Linked DNA regions of Homo sapiens: all the other regions are reported to be linked to region 6. Evidence: microRNA targets listed by miRTarBase, many of them from high-throughput screens and not tested one by one. Region 6 holds a microRNA gene; each other region holds the end of a gene's coding sequence.
Evidence for each region. Region 6 holds the annotated microRNA hsa-miR-3915 (UUGAGGAAAAGAUGGUCUUAUU, at 2,031-2,052, shown strand). A microRNA usually pairs through its seed, bases 2 to 8, with sites in the 3' UTR of a target mRNA and lowers its output. Matches are read on the target gene's strand: a 7mer-m8 pairs with bases 2 to 8, a 7mer-A1 pairs with bases 2 to 7 and ends in A, and an 8mer does both.

Region 1 (5,075 bases), not on the chromosome of region 6:
GGTTTTGTTGTTGTTGTTAGTGTGTGGGCGTGGTTTTGTTTGTTTTTGGAGACAAGGTCTCGCTCTGTCGCCCAGGGCTGGAGTGCAGTGGCGCGATCATGGCTCACTGAAGCCTCGACTTCCAGGGCCCAAGCGATCCTCCTGCCTCAACCTCCCGGATAGCTGGGATTACAGGCGTGCACCACCACGCCCGGCTGGTATTGCTTTTTGTTTTGCTTCGTTTTCTTTTTTGCTTTTTGAGACAGAGTCTCACTCTGTTGCCCAGCTGGAGTGCAGTGGCGTGATCTCGGCTCACTGCAAGCTCTGCCTCCCGGGTTCACGCCATTCTCCTGCCTCAGCCTCCCGAGTAGCTGGGACTACAGGCGCCCGCCACCACGGCCGGCTAATTTTTTGTATTTTTAGTAGAGAAAGAGTTTCACTATGTAGGTCAGGCTGGTCTCGAACTCCTGACCTCGTGATCCGCCCAATCCGCCCACCTCGGCCTCCCAAAGTGCTGGGATTACAGGTGTGAGCCACCGCGCCCGGCTGTTTTGCTTTGTTTTCAACCACTAAAAGGCTGGATTCGTGTAACATACTGAATTCTGCTTTACAGAAGAAAACACCTCTTAGCTGTGTGACTGATTATAGGCAAGTTCTTGTGCCCCGGTTTCTGCATCAGAAAATGAAGCTTATAACAACAGTACTTGTCTCACAGTTTTAGGATAATTAAATTAGTTATATGTAAAGCAATTAAAACAGCTCCTGCCAAAGAGTAAACACCATATAAATATTCATTAAATAACATACAAACATACCAGGTTGGGAAAAATCAGTAAGCATAGGAGTCAGGAAATTCCAAGTTGGTTATCACAACTCTTGGCCCACAGGGCTTTAATCCAGGTGCCCTTGTCTCCTACCCTTGTTGCCATCCCAGTGTCTCCAGGGAGTAAGTAGAAATAAAGATCCTATCTCACCTCTTGGGCATTTTCCCCTCCCCTGAAAGCGTATAATCGCTTAGCACAGTCGGTGCTTAAGGGGCCAGGCTCCAAAGAAGATTAAAGGAACAGTTTGTGGGGTGCACTGGGCAGCAGTACTCTCCTCTGAGTTCAATCATCTTGCACTCTAAGAATCACCACCATGGCCCTTGTGCCAGGGAGAAGCAAGGAGGATGGGCTTTGGACTAGAAATAGCCCAGGCTCCTCCCAGCATCCAGAAAGTCCCAGGCTGCCCAACCCTCTCTGGGACAGAGGAAAAATTGGCAAGGTTGAAGGTCACCAGCACATTCAGGTTAGTACTTCCTCAGCCTGTGTCTGGCAGCTGGCTTACCCTCCAGTTTGGCCCAACCTCCCTGCTGTCCCTATTCAGGATTTCTCTCAAAAGTCCCATCTGCCGTCTATTGTGGTGGAATCCAGTGAGGTGAATGAAGAGAGTGGGGATCTCCATTTGCCCCATGAGGAGCTGCTGCTGCTCACTGATGGTGAGGAAGAGGATGCTGAGGCCTTCTTCCAAGACCAAAGTGAAGAGCCAGGTGAGGGAGGTGGCTCATTCAGGGGGCCACTGTGAGCTGAATGTTCTGGGCAGAGCCAAGATGGAAGTCAGTTACGGCCCCTGCATTCAGCAGTGCCAGGCACACAGCAGGTGCTCAATAAATGTGAAGATGTGGGAGAGAAAAGGCAGCTGGCAAAGTTGATGAATTGTAGAGAGCAGTTTTGGTATCAGAATGGGTGCCATCCTTTAATCTGTACTTTCTTTTTCTTCTTTTTTTTTTTTTTGAGACTGAGTCTCGCTCTGTCACCCAGACTGGAGTGCAGTGGCGCGATCTCAGCTCACTGCAAGCTCCGCCTCCTGGGTTCACGCCATTCTCCTGCCTCAGCCTCCCAAGCCGGCCAGTCTTGGGGTAATTTTATCTTTTCCTGCAGCAATGTAAACATTTTGAAAGTACAGATTAAGGCTGGCCGCGGTGGCTCACGCCTGTAATCCCAGCACTTTGGGAGGCTGAGGCGGGCAGATCACAAGGTCAGGAGATCGAGACCATCCTGGCTAACATGGTGAAACCCCGTCTCTACTAAAAATACAAAAAATTAGCCGGGCGTGGTGGCGGGCGCCTGTAGTCCCAGCTACTCGGGAGGCAGGAGAATGGCGTGAACCCGGGATGTGGAGTTTGCAGTAAGCTGAGATCCCACCACTGCACTCCAGCCTGGGCAAGAGCCAGATTCTGCCTCAAAAAAAACAAAAAACAAAAAAAATTACCCCAAGACCAACTACCTAAAAATAGTTTACATATTCGATACCTTCTCTTCTAGACTTTTTTCATCTCTGTGTACTGTTTTTTTGTTTGTTTGTTTTGGTTTTGGTTTTTTTTTTTGAGACAGAGTCTTGCTCTGTCCCCCAGGCTGGAGTGCAGTGGCAATGACCTCTGCTCACTGCAAGCCCTGCCTCCTGGGTTCGTGCCATTCTCCTGCCTCAGCCTCCCGAGTAGCTGGGACTACAGGCACCCGCCACCACGCCCAGCTAATTTTTTTGTATTTTTAGTAGAGACAGGGTTTCACTTTGTTCGCCAGGATCTCCTTACCTTGTGATCCGCCTGCCTGGGCCTCTCAAAGTGCTGGGATTACAGGCGTGAGCCACCGCGCCCGGCCCCGTCTGTGTACTGTTACAGAAGCTACTTTTTTTTTTTTTTTTTTTTTTGAGACAGAGTCACCCTCTGTTGCCCAGGCGGAGTGCAGTGGCAGGATCTCGGCTTACTGCAACCTCTGCCTCCCAGGTCCAAGCAAGTCTCCTGCCTCAGCCTCCTGAGTAGCTGGGGCTACAGGTTCAGGCCACCACGCCCGACTAATTTTTTTTGTATTTTAGTAGAGATGGGGTTTCACCATATTGCCCAGGCTGGTCTCAAACTCCTGAGCTCAGGCAATCTGCCCGCCTCAGCCTCCCAAGAAGCTACATTCTTTTGAGCATTTACTATGTACCAGGTACTATGCTAAACACTTTTACTTCATGATTTTCAGAACAACCCAATGAAGGTACTTCCCCTTTATAAATGAGAAAATTGAGGCTGCGAGGTTAGGCTCTTAGTGATATAATTGCTCTATTTTTTTATAAGCAAAAAATACCACAGAAATTAATTTTTAGCTCAAGTGCAGCAGCTTATCATGGCCCATTGCAGCTTTGACCTCCCAGGGTTCAAGCAGTCCTCCCAGCTCAGCCTCCTGAGTAGTTGGAACTACATGCCTGTGCCACTATCCCGGGCTCATTTGTTTTTGTAGAGTTAGGGGTGTCACTTTATTGCCAGGGCTCAAGCAATCTGCCCACCTTGGCCTCCCAAAGTGCTGTGATTATAGGTATGAGCCAGCATGCCTGGCCTAGTTTTGTAATTTGATAATATATCAGTAATATTTTTGTCCCCTCTCTTCCTCCATCCCAGGCTGGGCTTGGAGCCCACAGGACCCTAGAAGTCCTTTAAGAACATTTAACGCTGGACTCAGCTGGGGGCAGGACCAGGATGAAGAAGATGCTTGTTGGATTCTTGAGGACACAGCATGTCTGGAAGCCACCAACCACTGTCCCTTCTGGGACTCAACAGGCTCCCGTGTTTGTAGAAGTGGCTTTGTGGAATATTCCCATCTCCTGCCTCCTAATAGCTTTGAGGGTAAGTATTGTTCCCTCCCCCTCAAATATCTCATCCAGGTTTATGAAGCTCCTTATACCCATCCTCTTACAATCTCCTTTTACAGGTGACAAAAATGAGGCTTACAGGTTAGGCCACTAGATTATACAAGTCAGTCAGCGCAGGGGTTTTGATTCAGTTCCTGTCTGCTGCTTTTAGGAGCTCCAGTTAGTTGAAACTGGGGAATGACCCAATTGTACCTTCTCTTTTCAGCATTCATTTTGTGCTAAATATTGCGCACATCATTGTATGTAATCTCCGTAACTCCAAGTTATTCTCACTCTGCAGATGAGTAAACTGGGGAACAGAAACATTCAGCAATATGGCACCCAGCTAGTAAATGTGGAAGCCAGGACTCAAATTCTCACTTTGCAGCCAGATAGCTTGCAAAGACAGTTCTTCAGCCCTCTCCTTGCCCACAGAAATACTAGGGTCAGGACTACTAAAATGTCTTTAATGAGAGCCTTGAATCAAGTAAGCAAAGTAGGTGATGCCCCTGAACGGGCCTAGCTCCTGCACAGTCACAGTCCAGCCATAGGACCCTTGTTCCAGGCAGGGCAGTCGCACATCAGGGTCCTCATCTGAGAACTGAATCAGGGTCCCCTGAGGGTTTAGAACCCTCAAGCATTCTGATAGAAGCTGGTAAGCCCTAGGCAGACCTCCCCGGGCAACAGCATCCCATGTGCCTTTGTCCAGCAGTAGTTGGAAAGAGCCTGAAGAAGCCACAGCCCCCAGGTTCTGAGCATCGGCGTGCATGAAGTGGAGGCTTGAGGCAGGGTGTCCAGGGCATAGAGGTGTTTGGCCTGGGCCACCCTCCAGGAGGCTATTCATGTGGGCCACAGCCACAGGAGAAAAGTCCACCCCCAGCACATCCACTGGGTGTGGAGATTTGGTGTAGAGGCCTGTACATAGGCTGGAAGTCCCACAGCCCACATCCAGCACTCGCAGAGGACTGGCAGCCTGTGCCTCCTGCAGCAATGGCAGTAGGAGCCCCTGGACTTCGTCGTATCCAAAGAACCAGTCGAAGGTGGGGACAGTGCCCAAACGAGGCTGGGCATGCAGCCGATCCCAGAGACAGCGGTCCGCCAGGCAACTATCAGCCAGTGAGCCTGTGGGCACGGTTGGAGGGTGTCACTTGGTCTATGTCGCCACTGCAAAAACGTCGTATATACACACTGGCGTCTTTTTTTTTTTTGAGACAGGGTCTCACTCTGTGACCCAGGGTTGAGTACAGTAGCACAATGATGGCTCACTGAAGCCTCCACCTCAGCCTCCTGAGTAGCTAGGACTATAGGCGCCATCGTGCCCGGTTAATTTTTTTTGTAGACAGGGTCTCGCTATGTTGCCCTAGGTTGGTCTCGAACTCCTGGGCCAAGCGATCTGCCCGCCTCGGCCTGGCAAAGTGTTAGCATTACAGCCGTGAGCCACCACG
Region 2 (5,075 bases), not on the chromosome of region 6:
AGGGCAGAACAATTGAATGCAATGCAGGATCTTTGGATCATGAACCAGGAAAAATAATGCTTGAAAGGATATTATTAGGGTCACTGGAGAAATTTGAAATGAATTACATATTAGACCATATTATTGTATTAATGTTAAATTCCCTGAATCTGATCATTGTACTTTGGCTATTTAGGAGGACATCTCTGTTCTTAGGAAATGCATACACATCTTTATAGGTAAAGTGAAACAATGAGATGCAGTAAATTAATAAGTAGGGTGTGTGGGTATGTGTACAGGAGGAGAGAGGATGGGAAGTGAAGAGAGCAAGCAAATAGTTCTGTAAACATTCCAGCACATCTCTTGGTAAACACATATACATATTACTGTTCAGTACATATCACTGAATTAAATTTGCTGGTCAAAGTCATGTGTATACTTAGCTTTAGTGGATACTGCCAGAAACATTTTCCAAGGTTGTTCCACTCTACATTCCCTTTTAAAACAGCTTTCAGTTTTGGGTTTTACATTTAAGTCTTTAATCCATCTTGAGCTGCTCTTTGTGTATGGTGTAAGGAAGCCGGGGTGATTCTTCAAAGACCTAAAAGCAGAACTACTACTCAACATAGCAATCCCATTACTGGGTATATACCCAGAGAAATATAAATCTTTCTACCATAAGGACACATGCATATGAACGTTCACTGCAGCGCTATCCACAACAGCGAAGACATGGAATCAACCTAAATGTTCATCAATGACAGACTGGATAAAGAAGATGTGGTACATATATACCATGGAATACTAAGCAGCCATAAAAAGAATGAGATCATGTCTTTTGCAGGAACACGGATAAAGCTGGAGGCTATTACCCTTAGCATACTAATGCAGGAACAGAAAACCAAATACTACATGTTCTCACTTATAAGTAGGAGCCAAATGATGAGAACTTATGAACACATGGAGGGAAACAACAGACAAAATGGTCTACTGGAGTGGGGGTGTGGGAGGATGGCAAGTAACAGAAAAGGTAACTGTTGGGTACTAAGCTTAATACCTGGGTGATGAAATAGTATGTACAACAAACCCCTGTGACACGTGTCTACCTATGAAACCAACCTTCACATGTACCCTCAAACCAAAAATAAAAGTTGGAGAAAACAACAGCTTTCACTCTTATTGGACACCTTCTTACTTTCAATGATGTCTTTTGATGAAGTGCTTAAAGTTTTAATGTAGCATAATTTATTTTTTTCCTTTATATTTAGTGCTTTTTGTGTCCCATTAAAGAAATATATGCTTACCCTAAGGTCATGAAGATATTCTCCTATATAAACTAATGTCTTTATTGTTTTGCTTTTCACAATTATTTTTCAATCTCTAATTGTTTGTGGTGTGAGATAAGACTTTTTGTTCCATATAGATATCCAATTAATCTACCATCTTTTTTTTTTTTTTTTTGAGACGGAGTCTTGCTCAGTCGCCCAGGCTGGAGTGCAGTGGCACGATCTCTGCTCACTGCAAGCTCCACCTCCCAGGTTCATGCCATTCTCCTGCCTCAGCCTCTCGAGTAGCTGGGACTACAGGCGTTCGCCACCACACCCGGTTAGTTTTTTGTATTTTTAGTACAGACGGGGTTTCACCGTGTTACCCAGGATGGTCTCGATCTCCTGACCTCGTGATCCACCTGTCCTGGCCTCCCAAAGTGCTGGGATTACAGGCATGAGCCACCACACCCGGCCTAATCCACCATCTTTTATTGAACAGACTGTCTTCTTTACTGAGCAGACAGCAGTATCACCTTCTTCAGAAATCAGTTTCTTTCTGAACTTTTGACCAATATATTGTCTTTCTTACTCAGCTTTCTAATAAATCATGATTATCTGATACTGAAGACCAGACACTCAATTCTTCCATGATGGCTTAGCTATTCTTTGATTTTACATTTCCATATAAACTCTACAATCAGTTTAATTTCCAAAAAATAAGCCTGGGTGAGATTTTCACTGTCAATATAATTTAAGAGAACTGATATCTTTTAATCAATATTGTCTGCCAGTAATGAATATGGTATATCCTTCCTATTTTGGTCTTCACTTTGTTATATATCTGATATTTTCAATGGTATTACAAATGGTAATACATAAATTTCATATTTGTTTGCATATAAAAAGTGAAAGAGTTTTATTGTTTTTTGTTGACTTTTAAAGTTCATCTTTCAGAATAGTATATAAAATGTCCTACTCCCAAAAAGTTTATTCTCCTGTTTCTCACATCATACTCTCATAAAGTCCACGACTAACTTCATTTTGCCACCTGCTTTTTTTTGTTTTTCCTCTATGTACCTTGCCCATCTTGATAAATAATACAACTAAACTCTTAAATCAAAATCCTGGGAGCTATCTTTAACTTTTTCTGACATCCAATCAATAATCAACTCCTGTTCATCCTAACTCATAAATCCTTTCCAAATCCATGCTTCCTTATTACCATTACCACTGTTCTTATTCGGGCCTAATCATTTTTTTTCTGGACTTTATAAAAGGCTTGTTTTCCCCTTGTCTCTAGTTGTTCCTTCTACTCATCTATTTTTCACAGATATTTTCCTAAAGTATACACCTGATCATGTCATTCCTCCTCTCAAATGTTAACTGAACCTACGGGATACAAAATATCAAAATTTCTTGGCATTGCACACACATAACTGTTTATGATAAGGGGCTTAGCTTGTTATGCATTCTCCACCCAAAATGAAAACAATGTACTTTAAAAATATCAAATAACTTACACTTTCCCATGTGTCAAGTGCCTTCTCCCATCTCCATTTTAAAAAATGTAATGCTCCCTCTAATTGAATGCATTCTCCTATCACTATTACTCCTAACACCATGACCACCACCACCACAATGTAAGCTATTAGAAGCATTAAAAAAAAAAAGATAGTAGTAGGCTTAATCAAAGACTTGTTAAGAAAATGAGTATTCAATAAATCCAAACTCATTTGTATTTCTGTATTTGATTTTATTTGGTATATGCCACTATGACCTTATTTTAGTAGAAATCCATTACAGGATTTTTAAATTATCATTAGTCAACTCCACAAAGACAATAATACTGCTGTGGAAGACCGAAGGGGAAAAAAACTGATATATTTATTTACAATTCCCTATATTGTAAACATTTAATCTATATATTGTTACTAACTTATAATGAGACAAGGAAATGATGCCCTGTATTTCTATTCATATTCAGCAATAGCATATTATAATAGAACATCAGATTTTCTTTTCCATTAGCATTATGCTTTCTTTAAATAATTATCTAAACTTTCAAAAGAACTAAATATGTAAGTGCTATACAACTAAATCTACTTAAGCCAAATATTTGGCTTATAATTTCATTTTTAGAATAACTTAAAGTGCTATAAGCAACCTGGCAATCAACACTTTCTGTAAGAACAAAACTACACCTTTAAACATTAATTTACAAGATATACAATGTTTATCTGGAATAGCTGAAATTTCAGCACAAAGTCACTGTCACATGTATAACAGCAGGATTCTTTTTTGCATAACATGAAGCTTTAAAATCAACTGATGAATTATTGCCACAATGGCTATTATTGGTTTCCTACAAAAGAGGATAAGAACTACTAGTGTATTCTATCTTTTCATTTTTTTTTTGAGGTCACTTGACAGTAAGTTTGCATATTCAACAAGTCTACTGAGTTACAATATTGTCTACTATAATCATTGCCCTTTATAAGAGCAAATGCTAATGGTAATTAATAACATATACCACTCAAAGAAAATCACAATTTTTTTTTTCCTTTTGAACAAGAGTAACCTATATTTTGGGAGTTGGTGTGCAATAAGGCTAAAACAACCAAATTATAAAACAGTATACCTGACACAGTATGTTGAGGAAATATGCATCTGTTTCATAGTTTTTGTACTTATGTTAATGCCTTACTAAGCTACACATATGTAAATAGTATGTTTTCTTGCTAATATATTAAATCCAATAGAATCATTAAGTTCTCATTCTCCTTTGTGACTTGTAACTTTATCAGATAATTTAATGATGAAAGCATATGCCCAAACCTGCAGATCATATGTACTGTCATCTATTACAACCAGAATTCTCCTCACATTTCATTTTTCTTAAAAGGAAATTGAGAATACCTGCAACATCGTTAAAGAGAATGTTGTAGTGTGAATAAAAACTAGAACTCAGTGGTCTATGAAGTATGTATTATTTTGGCAAGTGATTTTTTCCTTCCTAAGAATAAGATGAACATGTCCAAATGTTACCTGTGCCAACTTCACAGATACAGAAGTATCCAGTCTTCATTTCCTCAATGCCCCAATTAGACTGTTCTAGTAAACGAATCAATATAGTTAAAAAAAAAAAAATCAATACAGGTTCAACAAAAGAGCACCATCCTATTAGGGAACTGAGTAACATGTGAAAATGAAGTTGTCATTATAATCAAAATGTTGCCCAAATTCTAACAAACCCAAGCTGTTATACTAGTACATGGACGCAGTCCCTAGTGTTAACCTAAAGAACTCTGGGACAAGAACATGATTTGAAAAATAAACTCCAAAATTATAACTGTAATAAATGGTGATACAGACTAATTTTAAAGCACAAGTGACATGTTACACTGTATTGCTTCTTGAACTTTCCAAACAATGCTTGTCCATGTCAGGTTTGGGCCATTCTCCTGCTAAGACAGAGAGCATTTTATTTATTCAAAAGCCCAGATTTCAATATCTTGGATAAAGAAATCTTCCTTCTTAGAAAGTGTACGATTCCCAAACGTTTTACAAGAATGGCTTCTTCCATGGTAGAGATCTCCATCAAGCCAAAGCGCAAATTCTCCTCTGCAATACATAAATAATAATCTGTTAATATTTATGCCTTAAGTTATAAAACAATTTAAATGAGACTTTGAATACCTAACAACCCTAAAGTTATTAATTTTCTCAAATCCTTCCCTACTCCTTTCCACACTGACACAATTTTGTTTTACTCCTATTCCATTAAAAAATTATTTATGGGCCGGGTGTGGTGGCTCATGCCTGTAATCC
Region 3 (5,075 bases), not on the chromosome of region 6:
CCTGGGGCTGAAGGTTCCAAGCCTCTAATCACAGGGTTGGTTCCTTTGCCAATCAGTGCCATCCTGCAAGAGCCCTCATTAGCATAAACTCATGTGTGATTAGAAGGGGCTTGTTATGAATAACGGAAGACACTCCTTTCACCCCCATCACTCTGGAAATTCCAAGAGCTTTAGGAATTCTGGCTAGGAACCAGGGGTGAAGGCTAGATATGTACCTCTTATGGCACCCCAGGACCATGCCAAGTCCCTGCCTCTCAGTCTAGTGTTCTCTCCACGCCACACCCTGCCTCTTAGACATCCTCGCATCCCAGCAAGGATGCAAGGCTGGGTGCGACTGGAGAGAACAATGGAGGCTCCCCACAGACTGGAGACTGGAGGCAGGGTCTCCTGTCCATCCCTCTGGCTCTTCTGCATGCCCCAAGCTTGGCAGCAGGCTCGCTGCTGGCCGCTACACTGCTGGTCCGTTGATTCCATCATCTCCTCCCTTCCCCTTCTGCCCAGGCTGTTGCATCTTTTCAGAGAAAAACAGAAGTGTCTTTTCCGCAGGAACCAATGACAAGCCAGGGGGCCCACACTACATCCTGCGCTGGACGTCGCCGCAGGTCATCAAGGAGACACATAAGCCCCTGGGGGACTGGAGCTACGCGTACATGCAGTGAGCCCCTCTCGGGCTCCACCGTCCAGCTGTCTGTCCGTCCAGGTGGCCGACCTCACTGCACAGACCCCACTCCAGCCCCTCCACCCCTTCTTCATGCACAGCTGCCTTTCTATAATCCGGGCTTGACTCCCTTCTTACCACTGTATTCTGGCCTCTCCCATGCCTCAGGCTCTGGTTTGAGATCGTGCTGGGGAGGAACATGGCCACTACCCCTTATCCCATCGGCCATGTGGGAGGTATGACCCTGGTGCCTGGCAGGTTCTCCCTCTGCCCTCCACTGGGCCCAGTGGCTCAGGGACCTGGGGAAAGGAGATGGAGCAGCTCTTGGGATCCTTTGGGGAAAAGGAGGCCATTCTGGGCCCCTTGGCAAACCTCACCACTCACAGAGGCTCCTGGCCTTGATCCCTGCCCCTCCAGGTGTCCAGGGTAAAGTGTAACTCAGACTGACCTGTGGGGCACAGGGGGCACCAGCTGGCCTTGCCCTCTCTGGTCTGGGCTGTCTACCTTCCTCACTGTATCTTTGCCCAGACCCACCTGGGCCAGTAGGCCCCTGTCCCCAGCCACACACCTTAGATGCTGGCATGCCTTACTCCAGGTGCCTGTGTTTGGCCGAGGCCTGTGTGATTCCCGGTCTGCACCACATGGCGGGGTTGGGGGGCCGCTGGAGGCCACCTGCCAAGGCGTGGGATGGGATGGTCCTGCCGGTTTAGGCCGTGATTCTGGAAAACCTTGGATGGGCCTTCGTCCTATGTCAGCCTTCCCTTTGATCCTCAGGCCCTACCTGTAGAGACCTCCACTCCTAGAGCCAGTCTCAGGGTCTGGGATTTCCCTGCAGGAGCTCAGCCACCACTGTGCCATGGTGACACAGGCCAAGGCAGACATTGGCCCTCCCTTCTCCCAGCCCCCAGAGGCCTGGCCTTGGGTTCGTCAGCATGGGCCGAGGACGTTGCCTGTAGAATCCTCCTCTGCCTGGGAGTGGCTCTGTGTGGACCAGTCCCTCACTGGCCCATTCTTTTTTTGACGCAGCCAATCTGTGACCACGATTCCTCCCACAGATGCCTCCTGCTTGGATTCTGAGTGGTCAGAGATCTGTAAAGCATGACTTTCAAGGATGGTTCTTAGGGGACTGTGAAAGTGTTGGGTCTTCCTCCAGGATGCCTGCATGGGACCCCACCCGGAGCTGGTGTGGCCATTCCCCAAGTGCCACTGGCCCATGGATGGGGGTGGGTGCTGGTGCCAGCTGGGCTGGGTGTGGGTTCTGTGTCCTTCCAGGATATGTGTCATTTCCCATGAGGGGCCGGGGCAGGTGGCTGGGTGGGGGCACAGGCTGGAGTATTCTTAGTTCTACTGGTTCTACACTGTGAGGTGGCAATGGGATTTGCTCAGATGCCACCCAATAAAATGCCTGTTACTTAATCACAGTGGTGGATGGTCTTTCTGGAGGGGATGGTGGGGGCAGCCAACATCTTTTAAGTCTGGTGTCATTGCCAATGTGTCACCTGGTCATGGGCACAGTGCTCTCAGTGTGACAGAAGGAACAGTAGGTGCTGATGTTTGAAATTGTCTGTTGGAGGCGGTGGGGCTGGGTTCACATCCTGGCTCACTGCCCCCCCGCCAGCCAGATGATTGCCACAAAGTTATGCAACCTCTCTGACCTTCCATCTCTTCATCCATAAGATGGGGTAACCGCCCCCTCTCCCCGCCATGGGTCATCATGAGAATTGAATGAGTTAACACTTCCACATGCTTAGAATAGTGCCAGACACATGATGATTCAAAAATATTACCCATAAGGCCGGGTGCGGTGGCTCACGCCCGTAACCCCAGCACTTTGGGAGGCCGAGATAGGCGGATCACTTGAAGCCTGGAGTTTGAGACCTGGCTGGCCAACATGGTGAAACCCCATCTCTACTAAAAATAAAAAAATTAACCAGGCATGGCAGCATGCACCTGTAATCCCAGCTACTTGGGGAGGCTGAGACAGGAGAATCTCTTGAACCTGGAAAGCAGAGGTTGCAGTGAGCTGAGATCACGCCACTGTACTCCAGCCTGGGTGACAAAGTGAGACTCTGCCTCAAAAAAAAAAAAAAAAAATACCCGTTACCCATTTTCGTTGTAAGAACCACTATCCTGTGTGGTGATGGTTAATTTTATGTGTCACTTTGGCTGGGCATGGTGCCCAGGTATTTGGTCAAACATTCTGGGTGTTTCTGTGAAGGTGTATTTGGATGAGATTAACATTTAAATCAGTGGAGTTTTAAAAGTAAAAAGCAAGGCAGGTGACCGTTCATCCTGTGGGTGGGCGTGGTCTAATCAGCTGAAGGTCTTCATAAAGTGAAGAATGAGCTCTCCACGCGGGAAGGAATTCTGCCAGCAGATTCCCCTTGCACTGAATCGCTGCAGCTCTTCCTTGGGCCTCCAGCCTGCTGGGCTGCCATGCAGATTTTGGACTTAGTAAGCCTCCATAATCACATGAGCAAATTCTTAAAACCTCTCTCTTGCTCCTGTTCTGTGTCTCTGGAGGATCCTGATGAATATGTGTGCTGAAGGCCCAGTATGTTTCCTTACAACAGCCTTTGGAAGGAATTCTGCCACCCTCCCATTTTGGAGAGAAGGAAATTTAGGTACAGAGGTCAGGGGCCTTCCTGGGGGTATGGTATTGCTGAGACGTAAACCCTGGTCTGTTGGGGAAGGATTCGTTCCTGGTACAGCCACAAGAAGGCACATATGACTGCTGTCTTGGAAAGACACGCTCAGCTGGCCAAACGATGACTGAGAGGAGCCACTGCAGCCAGTTAGCTTGAGCCCAGGTCTGTGGGCCCTAGCCCATGCAGGCCAGGTGACTTGTGGAGGGGTGGAAACATGTGACCTGGCCTGTTCCCACCTGCCCATGATGTAAAAGGGGCTGTTTTGTAAACCACACTGACACCTCCAGGGACAATAGGCAATACCCAGAGTGCCCCAGGCTGGAGCACAGAAGGGAAGGGTGGCAACTGCATTTATAGTCGTGGGACCAGCAGGCTGTGGATGTGTTTGAACCATTGGTGTGACTTGCTTAAGATCACACTGAGACAGAGTTGGCTAATTACTAAATGCTTTACCTACCTGGTCACTTAGAGCCTTGGCAGTGACCTTACCAGGTAACTGTGGCAGGACCCACAGAGGTCAGAGGTGGGATAACTAGCTCAAGCTCACGCAGCTGGTTAGGAGGAAGGCTCGGGCTTGCACCCGGGTCTGCAGCTGCCCACGGCCCACGCTCTTCGCCACCTGCTCCATTGGGCTCCTGACTTCCAAGCTCCTCCTCTCCTAATATTATTTTATCCAACCTTCCTCAACCTGTCACCTTTGCCTCCTTTTGGACTAGGGGTGACTCAAAGCTGTTGCTTACCCTGTTCTCTCTCCTCTACCTCGTCCCCTAGACTTGGGGCTGGTGGCTCTTGAGGGCCCAGTGCCTGCTCGGGGACCTGAGGCCTCTTTGCATGGTCACCACAATAAGTCCCTGTGTCTGCGGTGGCCCAAGGAGCCCCTTCATTTCCCTGCTGTGGCCAGGGCCAGGGCTTGGAGCGTGAACCATTTGACTGAGGCCGGATGTCCCTGCCACCACTGTCCCACGGGCCGCCAGTGGAGCATGCCCTCTAAGGAAATGAGGGGCCACCTGTGCTGGCTGCAGGCCACCAGGCTGACCCAGAGCTCCTGGCGGGGGGAGTCAGGGGAAGTGGCAGGAGGCAGACCCACCCTCTCCAGAGAGTCTTCATTTTCACTAGTTCGTCCCCGACCCATTCATCGTCTTACTTCCTGGGTGTTCTGTTTAGGGGCCAGATTAGTAAATAACAAGAGCCACCATTGTTTGAATGCAGGCTGTGTGCCAGGCATTGGGCTAAATGCTTCGGGCATCATGGCCTCGGATCCTCATGGAAGTCTCATAAAGTAGGTGCTGTTACTCCCATTTTACAAAGGAGGAAACTGACACCAATGGGTTAAGTAACTAACATGCCAGTAGGAAATGAACAAACTGGGTTTTAGTCCCACACCTCTGACTCCCAAGCCCCTGGCCATAACCACCACTGCACAGTGCCCTGGAGCTGGACAGGCGCTGGGCTCAGATCCCAACCTTAGCGTCTTGTTCCTGTGCCTTGACCTCCCAGCTTCAGACTCCTCCAGGAGCTGAGGACCAAATGAAATATTTAAAAACAAAACGCTGCATCCCATGGCCTGCCAGGGTGAGGTGCCCAATCAATGTGAACTTTTAATTTTCAACCTCAACACTTCTTCATCCTAGATATGTGTGTTCCCCAGGAAAGAGGAGAAGCCAGATTTAAATGAGCACCTATCAATAGGCCAATCGTTCCTACAAATTCTCTTGGACCACACCGGCCTGTGAGATAGTATTTTAGCACCATTTCACAGATGAGGACTG
Region 4 (5,075 bases), not on the chromosome of region 6:
GTGGAAGAAATCTGAACGTTATGATTACTTTGCTCAACAGACAAGATTTGGGAAAAAAAGATATAACCATCACCCTGGAGTTACGTAAGTACTGTGGCCTTGCCTTCAAAGACTTACTTTTAACTGTAATATATAGTCATAAAATTACTGGGGTGTGTTTTTCAGGGACTATATGGATCGTTTAGTAGATGAAACAGAAGCTTTGGGTGGGACGGTAAATGCTTCAGCCTTAACTTCTAACCGGCCTGAGCCTATTCCTGATCAACAGCTAAACATTCTCAACTCCTTCACTGCCAGTGACTTGACAGGTAAAATGAAGACCTTTCTGCATTTAGTACAGTTTGTTGCAAAATTGTGTCCTCTGTTTGATGTCATAGGACCACTTACTTAAACAATTTTCCATTCCTTTTTAGCTTTGACCAACAGTGTAGCAACCGTCTGCGACCCCACAGATGTGAATTGTTTGGATGATAGCTTTCCTCCACTGGGCAACACACCCCGTGGACAAGTTAATCATGTGCCTGTTGTAACAGAAGAGTTACTCACCCTGCCCAGCAATGGGGAAAGTGATTGTTTTAATTTATTTGAGACTGGATTTTATCACTCGGAGCTAAACCCTATGAACATGTGCAGTGAAGAGTCAGAGAGACCAGCAAAAAGATTGAAAATGGGCATTGCCGTCCCTGAATCCTTTATGAATGAAGTTTCTGTAAATAACCTGGGTGTGGACTTTGAAAATCACACACATCACATCACCAGTGCCAAAATGGCTGTTTCTGTGGCTGACTTTGGCAGTCTCTCTGCCAACGAGACCAATGGTTTCATCAGTGCCCATGCTCTGCATCAGCACGCGGCCCTACACTCTGAGTGACCTGAGTGAGGATCCCGGAACTGCGTGTGCAGCACCAGTAAACTTGAGGGGAGCTATCAGGTTTGCATAGTCTTTCACTGGAAGTTTGAACCTTTCTCACTATGACATCAGTGATGTCAGTATGTATAGAACTATATCTTGATTTATCAAGAGTATTTTCATTTTTCAATCCATAAATGTGGAAATGAACTATGATCAGCAGAGTTGGGAACTAAGATTGAACTCTGTGGTGCAGCTTTAAGCTCTGCTTCTCTCTTCCTCATCTCCCAATACCTCTTCCCCACTCCCTTCTTTTTCTATTCTTTTGTGTTCCCCACTGCCCTCACTCCCAATTTTAAAACCTGTAGACAGAGGCCACCAGCTCAAAACCAGCACAGATGTTCTGAACTGAATGGTGTGGCCTGTTTTTGTGTAAATTCCTTTTGCCGTAATGGATGCAGTGGAATAACAATGTTTACAGGTACCGATCCCGATCCCTGCTCAATGTAGCATTTTTTTGGTTTTATTTTCTTAATAAAAGCAGGGGTAGGTTTCTTTAAACTGCACAAACATGCAAGGATTTTTTAAAAATGGAAACTTCTCTCATGTTATTCAACTAGAGCACTTCAGTTTACAAAACAGCAAGTCCATCTTTATGGAAGCCAGCACAAGGAACTGTGTGCAAATAATGAAGACGCTTGCTTGGATCCTGTTTCAAAATTCTAGACCAGGGCTACCTTACACAGAATTGGTCATGTTACTGCCAGGAGATTTCTGTGTAACTTCATTTATTGGCTACAGTTTTGGCATTTGAAGATGTGGTACTCAGATGGGGTTTTGTCCACCATTGTCAAGATTGTAATCTTAAAAATCATACCAGTCATTGATAATTTAGTTTATCCTGAGGCAGTCGACTTGCAGAGGCACAGTCTACAAAGCCTAGGATGTTGCCACTCAATGGTTTACATTTTGGGACATCTTTTAAGTTGTTTGTAGCACTGCAGTTCAAAGTGTTAATATTTAGAGGGACTTCTAGATTTTATACCTAATGCAGTAGAACCTTGAAGTATATTTAAGCTTTTTTGTTAAGCTTGAACAGTTGGCAAGAATAATGTGAGTTCCTATCTGAAATAGAATGGTACATTACCACTTTTAAGTTTTAAAAATTGATAGATGTTCAGATGTATCTCAAACTCAGTTTTATTTTTATTCCAAATATTGTGAATGAGAAGCCATTGTCCTAAACTTTGGCCATTTTTGTGCTATAAACATGCATTTTTAAGTTATAAGGTGAATCAAACAATATGTAATACAGTATTAGGATGTAATCTTTGCTTTTGTAGTACTGTTAAAATAGAGAATTATGTTGTTTGCACCGTCTTAATTAAAATTCTTGATTTTTACTAGTTGCTTTGCAAAAAACAAATGTTTGGCTGCATTGCTAATATTTGTAAGTATAAGTTGCTTCAAGGTTGTGCTGATGAGTAGATAGGATGTAGTGATCTTAGTAGTGATTGAAAGGGAGGGTATTTATTATACAAACTGTGAACTGCAATGACATCCTTAGTTTTGGATGATGTGTATTCTTGTTTTTCTTTGCAGCATTTTAATGAAGATTGCTTTGAAGTGTTTACGCAGTAGCACATTAGTATAAAATTTAGTTTAGCACAGTGGACAAAAAGTAGTTAAATTAATAACTTAAAATCAGTCTCTAATTTATACATCTGAAGTATAGCATTCCTGTATGCACACAGTAAATAATGGGTAGCCTGGGCTCTGTGTTACTTTCTTGTATTTTTATCCAAGTTGTCAGCTTCTTATTGCTGTGTTGTTGTGCTAAACTTTGAACCTTATTTCTTTTATTAAAAATCAGTACACTTTCTATAATTTAGTAAGATACTGGCCATAATCTTCCATTGTTATAACCTTAATTTTCACTCTGGGTTTACAGTGGCTGGTCTGTATAAATAATTTACACAAAGATGACTGAATGCTAATACCAGTTGCACTTAAATGAACATGCCCATTCTCAGTAGCTGATGCAGTAATATATTCAGTTTATCTATGCATTGCTGGGGTCTTGATATAAGATGGAAACAGTGTTTCTTATCTAAAGTTTTGATTATCAGCAAGTTGAATGGACACTTTAGTTATTTAAATAAAGATTTTTGACCAAAATCCAGAAAATGGTATGAGAGAAAAATAAATTCCAGCTAGTTTAATAGATTTTTAAATGTCAATCTGATTTTAGCCTCTTAGAGAGTGCTAACTAGCTGGTAATGTTTACTTTTAATTCCTTGTTAAAATGAGGCAATAATTTGCAAGATTTTTGTATATAAGTGTAAATTCTTCATATCTTTTTAGATCTAATTCAATATTTTCTGACTACTTCTGCCATGTATAATACCATTTTTGTGCATGCTTGATGTGACATTCATAAATTGTACCACTATGACTTTATCCATGTAAAATAGCTATTTATTGAATTTTCTTTTAAAAGCTGGATTTACTGGGTTTTTTTTTTCTCTCAGTTTAAACATCTTAACAGAGAATTTGTTACTGTTTATTAAAAGAATTGCATTTGGAAGCAAGAAAACAACCGGATTTGCAATCATGTGAAGAAACAATAATGCCTTTATTATCAAGTGTTAAGCACAATTCTTATAACAAACTGTGATAAATTCTTTTTGTTTTTTTTTCCTTTGCCCCATTATTTTCTTATGAACAAACCAAAAATTCATGGTGAGCAGTTGCAGTGTTGGCTGATATATCTTTTATGTACAGGGAATTTGAAAAGGACAGTGGATTCATTTAGAAGTGTAACTGGTGCTGTGATTATAGCAATACATTTGTTAGTTGTACTTCATCTTTTTCATGCTAGCTTTTTAAATGTTTAGTTTTCCTCTTGTCATGGTCAGCTGCTGAATTTACTTGAAGGATGTAGAATACTGTTTAAAAAATACTAAAATTTGTACAATTAGATCAAAGAATTGTGCAATCATTTCCTTTTTAATTTTTAAAATGTTGAGGCTCATAAATATTTGAGAACATCAGATCTAATAGAGCATAGTGATACTATTTAATTTAACCAAAGTCTCTAGTGAATATTTCAACTTTGAATGTAAACTAACAAATAAACCTGACCACCAAGGAGATTGTTTGCCCAGAGTTTCAAAGCACATTGTCTACAAATGGAAATTGAAATAATTTATAAAATATTGACGTTACTATGTTTTTTAAAAAGTTCCTAATTTTTTCACTAAATGGAGGAAACTATTAGTTTTATTGTTAAATATGGTAGATATTAATATTCCTCTTAGATGACCAGTGATTCCAATTGTCCCAGTTTGAAATAAGTACCCTGTGAGTATGAGATAAATTAGTGACAATCAGAACAAGTTTCAGTATCAGATGTTCAAGAGGAAGTTGCTATTGCATTGATTTTAATATTTGTACATAAACACTGATTTTTTTGAGCATTATTTTGTATTTGTTGTACTTTAATACCTGGTGTACAGTTCCAGAAATAAAAATCTGGGAATCTTTTTTTCTTGGTTTGTGTGAATATTTGCCAAAAATACAGATATTTTATTTAATGAATCTTAAGCTACAGCAAATAGATAGATATTATACCACTGTTAAATTGGTTTTAGATGCAGTAAATAAGATATATGATAGATAGTGAAGTTGGTAGATTAAATATTTTCCTTAAATCCTCTATAATTTCCATCTATAATAAAAGTCCCCCTGTAATCCCAACACTTTGAGAGGCCGAGGCGGGCAGATCATGAGGTCAGGAGTTCAAGACCAGCCTGACCAACATAGTGAAACCCCGTCTCTACTAAAAATACAAAAATCAGCCGAGCGAGGTGGCGCATGCCTGTAACCCCAGCTACTCAGGAGGCTGAGGCAGGAAAATTGCTTGAACCCTGGGGGTGGTGGTTGCAGTGAGCTGAGATCCTGCCATTGCACTCCAGCCTGGACAACAGACTGAGACTCCATCTCAAAAAAAAAAAAAAAAAGAAGTCCCAAAGTAAGGATTATACTTTTAGTTTAATTCAGGAAACATTTATTATGTTTCAAACGCTGTTCTAGGTAACTGTCTTTTATGAAGACAGACAGATCTGAAATTTGGTCAAATATTATTATTATTTGACAGACTACATTTATGGTCAACTAGTCTTCCTTATCCATACGATTCATAGTTTGACCGTAGTCATATCTA
Region 5 (5,075 bases), not on the chromosome of region 6:
TTTGAGACCAGCCTGGCCAACATGGTGAGACCCTGTCTCTACTAAAAATGCAAAAATTAGCCAGGTGTGGTGGCGTGCGCCTGTAGTCCCAGCTACTCAGGAGGCTAAGGCAGGAGAATTGCTTCAACCTAGGAGGCAGAGGTTGCAGTGAGCCGAGATTATGCCATTGCACTCTAGCCTGGGTGACAGAGTGTCAAGATTCCATCTCAAAAAAAAATCACCCTAGTTGCCACTCTGGCCTGGTTGCCCATCATGGTAATTGTGTCCACTTTGCCTGTGATAGCTCAGTGCTGCCGCCTGGCCTCTGTTGACCAGTCATCCCATTAATAACAGGGAACTCTGTTCTGTGGCAGAATCTCCTACTATTAACCCTGCTGAGGCAGCTGTCACTGAACAATCCCGGTGCTCCCCTCACTTCATCCTTTATTGTCTGAGTGAACGGGAAGCTATTTGGGCCTTCCGAGATAACATAGGTGTTTGGTTCTCAGATCTCGTGTAAGAAATTCATTTTAACACACGCTGAGTCTGCTGACACCCTTTCTCTGCTCATCATTTTAGCAGCTCTACCTCATTTACTGTAGGCCATCATTCCTCGCCAAGTATTGGATTTTTTTCTTTTCAGAGAGACAGGGGTCTCATTATATTGCCTAGGCTAGTTTCCAACTCCTGGGCTCAAGCAGTCCTCCCATCTCAGCTTCCTGAGTAGCTGGGACTACAGATGTGTGCCACCACGCCCAGCTAATTTTTATTTTTGTAGAGACTGGGTCTCACTATGTTGCCCAGGCTGGGCTTGAACTCCTGAGTTCAAGCGATTCTCCTGCCTTACCCTCCCAGAGTGCTGAGATTACAGGCGTGAGCCACTGCACCCAGCTGATTAATACATGAAAACCACTCGGAAAAGAGCCAGGCAACGCTGACACAGAGTATATGCCATGTATCAGCTACTGCTACCATCACTTGCAAATCCCATCTCCTCTACAATCTCAACTCTGAAAACAGTATCATTCCACTCCATCTTTACTGAACCTGCCCAGGCTTGATGCTGGTTAGATGGAGGAGGATGAGGAGTATAATCAAAGAAAACTTACAAAATTTTGATCCTGACAGGTTTACAGAAATTTTAAGAGGGGGCAATAAATGGGAAAGTGGGATCTGGTTTGAAACATACTATGAAACTGTAGAAAGTCCAGGTGTAACTGCTCTGCAGTCCACTGGAGACCCACGACTGAGGCTTGGGAGAGCCATCAGGACATGGGCAGGTTTTTTTCTTCTTCTTCGAGACAGTCTCGCTCTGTCACCCAGGCTGGAGTGCAGCAGCATTATCTCAGCTCACTGCAACCTCTGCCTCCTGGGTTCAAGTGATTCTCCTGCCTCAGCCTCCCGAGTAGCTGGGATTACAGGCATGTGCCACCAAGCCTAATTTTTCTATTTTTAGTAGAGACAGAGTTTTACCGTGTTGGCCAGGCTAGTCTCAAACTCTCACCTCGTGATCCGCCCGCCTTGGCCTCCCAAAGTGCTGGGATTACAGCCATGAGAACACAGATTTAAAATTTATTTGCATAGGCTGGGCGTAGTGGCACATGCTTGTAATCCCAGCACTTTCGGAGGCCGAGGCAGGCAGATCATGAGGTCAGGAGTTCAAGACCAGCCTGGCCAACATGGTGAAATCCCGTTGTCTATTAAAAATACAAAAGTTAGCTGGGCGTGGTGGTGGGCGCCTGTAATCTCAGATACTAGTGAGGCTGAGGTTGCAGTGAGCCGAGATTGGTCCACTGCACTCCAGCCTGGGCAAGAGCAAGACTCCATCTCAAAAAAAAAAAATGGCAATCTATAAAGTAATTTCATTTCATTTTTGAGACTGTCTTGCTCTGTTATCGTGTGGTGGTGCAATCACAGGGGCTCACTGCAGGCTCAACTTCCTAGGCTCAAGCAGTCCTCTCACCTCAGCCTCCCGAGTAGCTGGGACCACAAGTGTGCACCACCACACCCAGCTAATTTTTTTTTTGAGATGGAGTCTCACTCTGTTGCCCAGGCTGGAGTACAATGGAGCAATCTTGGTTCACCGCAACCACTGCCACCTGCATTTAAGCGATTCTCCTCCCTCAGTCTCCTGAGTAGCTGGGATTACAGGCACGTGCCACCACACCTGGCTGATATATATATATAATTTTTTTTTTTTTAGGAGAGAGAGCATTTCACCATGTTGGTCAGGCTGGTCTCGAACTCCTGACCTTGTGATCCGCCCACCTCGGCCTCCCAAAGTGCTAGGATTACAACTGTGAGCCACTGCGCTCAGCCCTAATTTTTTTTTTTTAATTTTGTTGTAGAGATAGGGTCTTGCCACGTTGCCTAGGCTGGTCTGAAGAGATTCTACTGCCTTGGCCTCCCTAAGTGTTGGGATTATAAGCATGAGCCACTGTACCTAGCCTATAAAGAAATTTTAGGGCCAGGCATGGTGGCTCACGCCTATAATCCCAGCACTTTGAGGCTGAGGCCGGCAGATTGCTAGAGCTCAGTTTAAGACCAGCCTGGGCAACATGGTGAAACCCCATCTCTACTAAAAATACAAAAATTAGCTGGGGCGTGGTGGTGCACACCTGTAGTCCCAGCTACTCTAGAGACTGAGGCACGGGAAGTGCTTGAACCCGGGAGGCAGAGGCAGCAGTGAGCCAAGATGGTGCCACTGCATTCCTGCCTGAGCAACAGTGCTAGACTCTGTCTCAAAAAAAAAAAAAAAAAAAAAATTAAGTCAACTTTCAAATTCCATTTATAGTTACCAACATGTCTTGTCTTTTTTTTTTGAGATGGAGTTTCGCTTTTCTTGCCCAGGCTGGAGTTCAATGGCGCGATCTCAGCTCACCACAACCTGCGCCTCCCGGGTTCAAGTAGTTCTCCTGGCTCAGCCTCCTGAGTAGCTAGGATTATAGGCATGTGCCACCATGCCCGGCTAATTTTGTGTTTTTAGTAGAGACGGGGTTTCTCCATGTTGGTCAGGCTGGTCTAGAACTCCAGACCTCAGGTGATCTGCCTGCCTTGGCCTCCCAGAGTGCTGGGATTACAGGCATGAGCCACTGCACCCAGCCAACATGTCTTGTTTTAACTGAAATATATGGTCCAAACATTGCACAAAACCACACTCAATCTCTTCTGAAAAACTATTCTGTTTAATAGTGCACTTCATTTATGCTACAGGATGAGCAGGGTTGGGAAAACACAATGGAAGGTCATCCCGTCGGTTGGGAAAACTCGGGGAGTGCCATCCTCACCCAGCAACGAGCTCTGCTACCAGGCTCAGGCACAGCCTGCCTTCTCTGGGCTTCGTTTTTTTGTTTTTTTGTTTTTTTTTTCTCCCTTTTGGGCTTTGCTCTTTCTCTGCATTAATCTTCAGCTGCTGAAGAGTCAGAGGTGGAGGCAGGAGTGGTCTGGCTCCTGGGGCTGGGTGTCAGAGGTGAGAGGGCAGGGCAAGCAGGCCAAGTGAGCTCCTTGAAAGCATCCTTACCCAGGCATTTAGAGAAAATCATTTTCATCATTGGAGTGGGAAGAGGACAAGAGAGGACAGCAATCAGAGGCCAACGCTAAGTGCTTCTGACCCTCTCCCTCACAGCCGGTTACTAGCTGTTTGGACAGATTTGCCCATTCAGCCCCAGGACAACTGGGGGGGATGGCAGGGGGTCTGCTGGCAATATCACCAGGTTTCTCTTGGAAACATGGTCTGGCTGCTCCAAGAGCCCTAAAGGACACCATCATCACAGATGATGATTCTGGAATCTCTTCTACCCTCAATAAAATAATCCCTCAATGCCAAATTTCCATAATTAACGAAATCATGAAACAAAACAGCATGTTTCTTACCGAAACTTAAAGCTGGACTAGGAACAGTAGCTTTGAAATAGTCTCCCTTTACCCTCCCTAGCAAATAACAGGACCCAGAGCGTCCTTTCCACTGCTGTCTGTGCTGACTACGCGGACTCCAACTAAAGGAATCCATCGAATTCTGTCCCGACTGTGCTTCCATCCCCACCTTGGAAAGGTTCCTCTGCTGTGAGAAAAACAGTTTAGTGCAAACTCCTTTCCTAAATGGGGTAACTGGTCCCAGAGCTGCTTTCTATTCCCAGCACGCCATCCACTTGCCTTGACGCTTTCTAAGGCTGGTGTGATTTCTGGGAAAATTCAACGATTTGCCCCATCTGCCCCATTCTCTAAAATGAAAAGTCTGAGTTGAAAGGGACACATCCTAAGCTGTTGAGATTTATAGGGTAAGGCAAGAGCTCTTGAGACTCAGGGAAAGTGAGGAAAATGGGTGTGTGGCTCTTTCACGTGGACTCTCTGATATTTAACTCGGTCGTAACTCTGAGGGAGCTTTTGCTCATGCCGATCCCATTCAAAGGCTTCTCTCCAGTGTGAATTCTCTGATGGCGAACAAGAGCCGAGCTGTACCTGAAGGCTTTCCCACACTCACTACATTCATAGGGGTTCTCCCCGGTGTGGATTCTTTGATGCTGAATAAGGCCTGAACTGTAGGTAAACTTTCCTCCACATTCCATACATTCGTAGGGCTTCTCTCCAGTGTGGATTCTCTGGTGCTGATAGAGGTGTGAGCTCTGGCTGAAGGCTTTCCCACATTCATTACATTCATAGGGTTTTTCTCCAGTGTGGATTCTCTGATGGTGAATAAGGGTTGAGCTCCTGCTGAAGGCCTTCCCACATTCATTGCAGGCGTAGGGTTTCTCACCAGTGTGGATTCTCTGATGGTGGGTGAGGGTGGAGCTCCAGCTGAAGGTCTTCCCACACTCATTACATTCATAGGGTTTCTCCCCCGTGTGGATCCTCCGATGCAGAATGAGGGCAGAGCTACAGCTGAAGGTTTTCCCACAATCACTACATTCATAAGGTTTTTCCCCAGTGTGGATTCTCTGATGCTGAATAAGGTGTGAGCTCTGGCTGAAGGCCTTCCCACACTCATTACATTCATAGGGCTTTTCCCCAGTGTGGATTCTCTGATGTTGAATAAGGTCTGAAGTTCGATTAAAGCTCTTGCTACATTCATCACACTTATGGGGTCTGTCTCCCACGGG
Region 6 (5,075 bases):
ATATAAGCAAGTATGCTGGAACAATAATATTCTTTTTTTTTTTTTTTTTTTTTTTTTTTTTTTGAGACGGAGTCCTGCTCTGTCACCCAGGCTGGAGTGCAGTGGCGCGATCTCGGCTCACTGTAAGCTCTGCCTCCCGGGTTCATGCCATTCTCCTACCTCAGACTCCCGAGTAGCTGGGACTGCAGGCGCCTGCCACCACGCCTGGCTAATTTTTTGTATTTTCTGTAGAGATGGGTTTCACTGTGTTAGCCAGGTTGGTCTTGATCTCCTGACCTCGTGATCCGCCAGCCTCGGCCTCCCAAAGTGCTGGGATTACAGGCGTGAGCCACCACGCCCGGCCACCCGGCCAATAATATTCTTTATGAATGCAAGTGTTAATACATTTACAAAAAATTTTTAAGTTTATTGATACATAATATTTGTACATACTTATAGAGTACATGTGATATTTTGTTACACTGTTGTATATAATTATATAGTCTTCCTACTCTGCTATCGAACATTAGAACTTATTCCTTCTATCTAAGCGTATGTACCCATTAAACAACCTCTCTTCATTCCATCCACACACTCTTCCCAGTCTCCAGTATCTATCATTCTAATCTCTAGCTCTATGAGATCCAATTTTTTAGCTCCCACATGTGAATGAGAACATGTGGTATTTGTCTTTCTGTGCCTGCTTATTTAACATAATGACCTCCAGTTCCATTTATGTTGTTGCAAATAGCTATATTTCATTCCTTTTTATGGCCAAATAACATTGCATTATGTATATATAACCTGTTATCTGTTTATCTGTTGATGGTTCTGAAAAAAAAATGCAAACTTTATGGTACTTTTTAAATTGAAGTATCAAGCAAAGGACATAAGTTATAATTATAGCTTAAAGACTTATTACAGAAGTAACATACTATGATTCCACATCCAGAAAAAGATAGTATGTTACCAGCAACCAGGAAACCTCCATCAAGCCCTATGGTATCATAAACTCTTCCCATCTCCTCAAAGGTAACATGTATCTTGAGTTATAATGCTGCAGGTTAGTCTTGCTATATTTTTAACTTGATGTAAATGAAACTTTTATATATGCAGTTTTTTAACTGGCTTTTTTCACTGGATACTATATTTGTGAGATTCACTATGTTGCATATAGCATTACTTTATTAATTTTCATCGCTGGATAGAATTACTTTGTATGAATATACCACATTTTACATATTCTGTTCAGAAAATTGGGGTTGTTTCCAGTTCGGAAGCATTACAAATAATTCATCTATCAACATAAATTGTACGTATATTTTTGTGTATATATGTAAACTTTTGTATTAGGTATTTACCTAAGAATAGCATTTCTTAATCATTGGGTATATGCATATTTAGCTTTCAAGATATTAACAAAGGGTTTTCCAAAGTTGTATAAATTCATATTCTCACCAGTAGTAAATGAAAGTACAAACTGCTTCATATCTTCTTGAATACTTGTTTGTTAAACTTTTTAATTTGAGCCTTTCTGGTGACTTTATAATGTCATCTCTCATTTTTCATTTGTATATACTGATGACCAGTGAGGCGGAATACTATTTCAGTTGTTATTGGCCATTTAAATGAACTCTTCTCTGAAATGCCTGTTTTTCTACTGGATTTTCTATATTTCTCTTACTGATTTATTTTAGTTTAAAATATATATATTCTGGGTATTCTTTGCTGTTTATATTACATTTTTCTTTTTGAATGGGTACCTTGCCTTTTCACTCCGTAATGATATATCTCTTCATAAACAGAAGTTTAAATTTAACATAGTTCACTTCAATATTTTCTGTTATGTTTAGTGTACTTTTGTCCTCAGTTTAAAAATAAAACTCTCTACTTTAAAATTCTGAAGCTATGGTCCTGGGTTGCTATATAGGAACTGTTTGTTTTACCTTTCGTATTACAATCCACCTATTATTACAGGTATGAGGAAGGGATGAATGTCCATTTTTTCCCATATAGATCCAACTGAAACAACAAGTTGGCACTGTAGAATATTGAGGAAAAGATGGTCTTATTGCAAAGATTTTCAATAAGACCATCCTTTCCTCAATATTCTGTGGTGTCATCTTTGACGAAAATATTAGAAATAAAATGCCTATACGTGCATGGATCAGTTTATGGACTCTAATCAGTTTTATTTCTCTACTTGCCTGTCCTCATGCTAATTCCACATTGTTTTAATTACTATAGCATTATGACAAGTTTTAATATATGGTAATATTTTTTTGAGATGGAGTTTCGCTGTTTCTACCCAGGCTGGAGTGCAGTGGCAAGATCTCAGCTCAATGCAACATCCGCCTCCCTGGTTCAAGCAATTCTCCTGCCTCAACCTCCTGAATAGCTGGGTTTGCAGGTGCCCACCATCATGCCTGGCTAATTTTTTTTGTATTTTGAGTAGAGACAGGGTTTCACCATGTTGGTCAGGTTGGTCTTGAACTCCTGACCTCAGGTGATCTGCCAGCCTCGGCCTGCCGAAGTGTTGGGATTGCAGGCGTGAGCTACCAGGCCCAGCCTGTATCTGGTAATATTGTAAAAGAAAAAATGCACCAGACAAACAGGCAAGAAAGACTTTATTCAAGACTACTGAATTATGGATCAAGACTATTGCCATAGGAGAGAGAGATGGAAATCATTTCTACTGAAAGAAAGACAGGAGAGAATTTAAGCACTGAGGAGAGCTAGTAGAAAAATACTGGAAGATATTAGGGGGTTAGGATGGTGATTAGGCAATCTGTGATTGTTAATTGGCACTTAATGAAGTTAGGCTCCTACTGTCCCACAGAGACTGGGAGATAGGCGTGCTATCATTAACAATTACATTTCAAAGAGATGGCTCCTAGGTCCTTGAGAAAGATATTCCCGGATTGTAGAAGATTTACATCTCAAAGAGGCAGAGAATATGTTTTTGGTTGCAAGTTTCCCTAAAGTAAGCGCTCTAAGAAAAGAGAGGTCAGGAGCCTATAGTCAAATAAAAGCCTGTCTAGAGTTTAGTCACATTAAGTTTGTTTTGGTCAGTTGGTCAGTAAAAGCCATTTTATTTTCTTCCTTTTTAAAGATTATCTTGACTGCTTTTGGCCATTTCGATCTCCATATGAATTTTAAGAACAGCTTGTGAACCCTGCCCCCAAAAAGAATCTGCTGTGGTTTTAATTGGATTTCATCTATTCTCTGGATCAACTTGTACAGAATCAACATTTTTATTATGTAAAGTCTTTCAATCCTTTCATTTAGTTAGGTCTTTATTTTCTCTCAATAATGTTTTATAGTTTTTAAAGTAAAGGCTCTTAAACTTTCTCTGAGATTTATTTCTTGGGTTTTTATATTTTTGCTGTTATGAATATATTTTTGAAATTTCATTTTCTATTTGTGCTGATATAAAGAAATACAGTTGATTTTTTTTCTTGGTCTTGTATCCAGGTACCATGCTACATTTACTTAATAATTTGAATACATTATCTGTAGTATTATTCAGATGTACATATATAGGTTGTTTTTGAGTAATGACAGTTTTCTTTCTCCCTTTCCAATTATTTTTCATGTCATTAATTTTCCCTGACATATTGTACTGTATAAATACTCTAGTACAATGGGAGTATTGTGGATATTTATTTCTCATTTTAAGTCTCAGAGGGAAGAACTTTAATAAATAATCATTAAGTATGATCTTTCCTGTAGGTTTGTTGTAGATACCTTCTGTTCTTAATATTCTAAGAGGTTTTATCACTACCGGATGCCAAATTTTATCATATATTTTTCCAGAATCATTTGAGATGGTCGTATTTTTCTTCTTTATTCTGCTATATGTCAAATCACATGACTTAGTTTTCTAATGCTAAAAAAGCCTTTCTTCCTGTAATAAACTAAACCTGGATAAGACGTATAATCTTTTTTGTGTATTGCTAGATTTTCTTTGATTCATAGTTTTTCCTTTACGTCCATGAAAGTGATTGGCCTGTTATTTTCCTTTCTTGTAATATGCTTGCTAGGTTTAAGTACCTGATTATGCAGGCTTGGTAACTGGCTTCATAACTGGAATTTGCAAATGGGAAATTTTAAAATTAAATTTTTATGTATTTAATACACATAAAAATGTCCATTTTTAATTGGAATTTCAACATTACATTTTTCCAGATTTTCCGTTTTGGAGTCAGCTCGAATCATTTGTGTCTTTCTAGGAATTGGTCTATTGCATCTAAAATTACAGATGTATTTAGATAAAGTTCTATTTAGTCCCTATGGTATTTAATAGTAGTTTATTAGCTACCATTGTTTGAAATTGAAAAAAATGTGACATGAACTAAGAATTTCTAACCTCTCTAGAGAAAGCAAATGATCTGATGATCCTTAGTCTGTTTTTCTACATAGTAACCAGAGCAGGAGTCAAGTTGCCCTGTTTTCTCTAGCACAGGCTCTTCATTTAGCCACAGTCCCCATTACTACCTATTCTGTTACACCTACATTATCTTATGCATTTTATTAGGTATGTACGTTAGAATTTGTGATTTCTTGTGGATGAAAAGTTGTGATGTCAAGAGTTGGCATGAGACATAGAGGGATATTTATCTTCTATGCACTTGCTTTCAAATAAGATACCTTTTGGAGCCCGTGCTCAGTGGCTCACGCCTGCAATCCCAGCACTTTGCGAGGCCGAGGCGGGCAGATCACTTGAGGTCAGGAGTTTGAGATGAGACCAGCCAACATGGTGAAACCCCATCTCTACTAAAATACAAAAAAGAGCCAGGTGTGGTGTCTCACACCTGTAATCCCAGCTACTTGGGAAACTGAGGCACAAGAATCCCTTGAACTTGGGTGGTGGAGGTTGCAGTGAGCCGAGATCGCGCCACTGCTCTCCAGCCTAGGGGACAGAGAAAGACTCTGTCTCAAAGAAAAAGAAAAAAAGGATACCTATTGGAATATGGCCCTGTTGTTTAAAATTGTAAAGGTAAAAATTTTCAATTCTTGTATAAAACATAAGCTTTATCAAGTATAGAAAAAAATGCAAAAAAAATTATCATTAATTGTCCTTCTAAAATGTTTCA

Region 1: the mRNA of CSKMT is a reported target of hsa-miR-3915. Seed matches in the 3' UTR shown: 7mer-A1 at 3,503-3,509.
Region 2: the mRNA of OXR1 is a reported target of hsa-miR-3915. Seed matches in the 3' UTR shown: 8mer at 3,899-3,906.
Region 3: the mRNA of ALDH4A1 is a reported target of hsa-miR-3915. Seed matches in the 3' UTR shown: 7mer-m8 at 1,164-1,170.
Region 4: the mRNA of MIER3 is a reported target of hsa-miR-3915. Seed matches in the 3' UTR shown: 7mer-m8 at 1,127-1,133.
Region 5: miRTarBase lists ZNF3 as a target of hsa-miR-3915. Seed matches in the 3' UTR shown: 7mer-m8 at 4,289-4,295.

The regions. Positions count from the first base shown.
Region 1 is chr11:62,666,073-62,671,147 of GRCh38, reverse strand. It overlaps CSKMT (citrate synthase lysine methyltransferase), which reads right to left. Exons shown (of 3, transcript NM_001043229.2): 3 at 3,040-4,752. The coding sequence ends at 4,097. LBHD1 (LBH domain containing 1) reads left to right here. Exons shown (of 7, transcript NM_024099.5): 2 at 1,107-1,266; 3 at 1,345-1,507; 4 at 3,401-3,625. The coding sequence starts at 1,117. Among named protein-coding and RNA genes, the nearest start is that of UQCC3, 3.1 kb to the left of the region's middle. RefSeq lists enhancers at 1-49, 50-791, 4,489-4,588, 4,609-4,658, 4,709-4,818.
Region 2 is chr8:106,750,599-106,755,673 of GRCh38, reverse strand. It overlaps OXR1 (oxidation resistance 1), which reads right to left. Exons shown (of 17, transcript NM_001198533.2): 17 at 2,980-4,868. The coding sequence ends at 4,733. Among named protein-coding and RNA genes, the nearest start is that of ABRA, 17 kb to the left of the region's middle.
Region 3 is chr1:18,868,429-18,873,503 of GRCh38, reverse strand. It overlaps ALDH4A1 (aldehyde dehydrogenase 4 family member A1), which reads left to right. Exons shown (of 15, transcript NM_003748.4): 15 at 547-2,074. The coding sequence ends at 659. Among named protein-coding and RNA genes, the nearest start is that of TAS1R2, 11 kb to the right of the region's middle.
Region 4 is chr5:56,918,924-56,923,998 of GRCh38, reverse strand. It overlaps MIER3 (MIER family member 3), which reads left to right. Exons shown (of 13, transcript NM_001297599.2): 11 at 1-84; 12 at 166-308; 13 at 414-4,396. The coding sequence ends at 871. It also overlaps a transcript of SETD9 not described here. Among named protein-coding and RNA genes, the nearest start is that of SETD9, 12 kb to the right of the region's middle.
Region 5 is chr7:100,066,830-100,071,904 of GRCh38, forward strand. It overlaps ZNF3 (zinc finger protein 3), which reads right to left. Exons shown (of 6, transcript NM_032924.5): 6 at 3,144-5,075. The coding sequence ends at 4,314. Among named protein-coding and RNA genes, the nearest start is that of ZNF3, 12 kb to the right of the region's middle.
Region 6 is chrX:32,580,688-32,585,762 of GRCh38, reverse strand. It overlaps MIR3915 (microRNA 3915), which reads left to right and starts at 2,011; the gene lies at 2,011-2,107. The region is part of intron 13 of DMD (dystrophin); the gene reads left to right. RefSeq lists an enhancer at 2,555-3,182.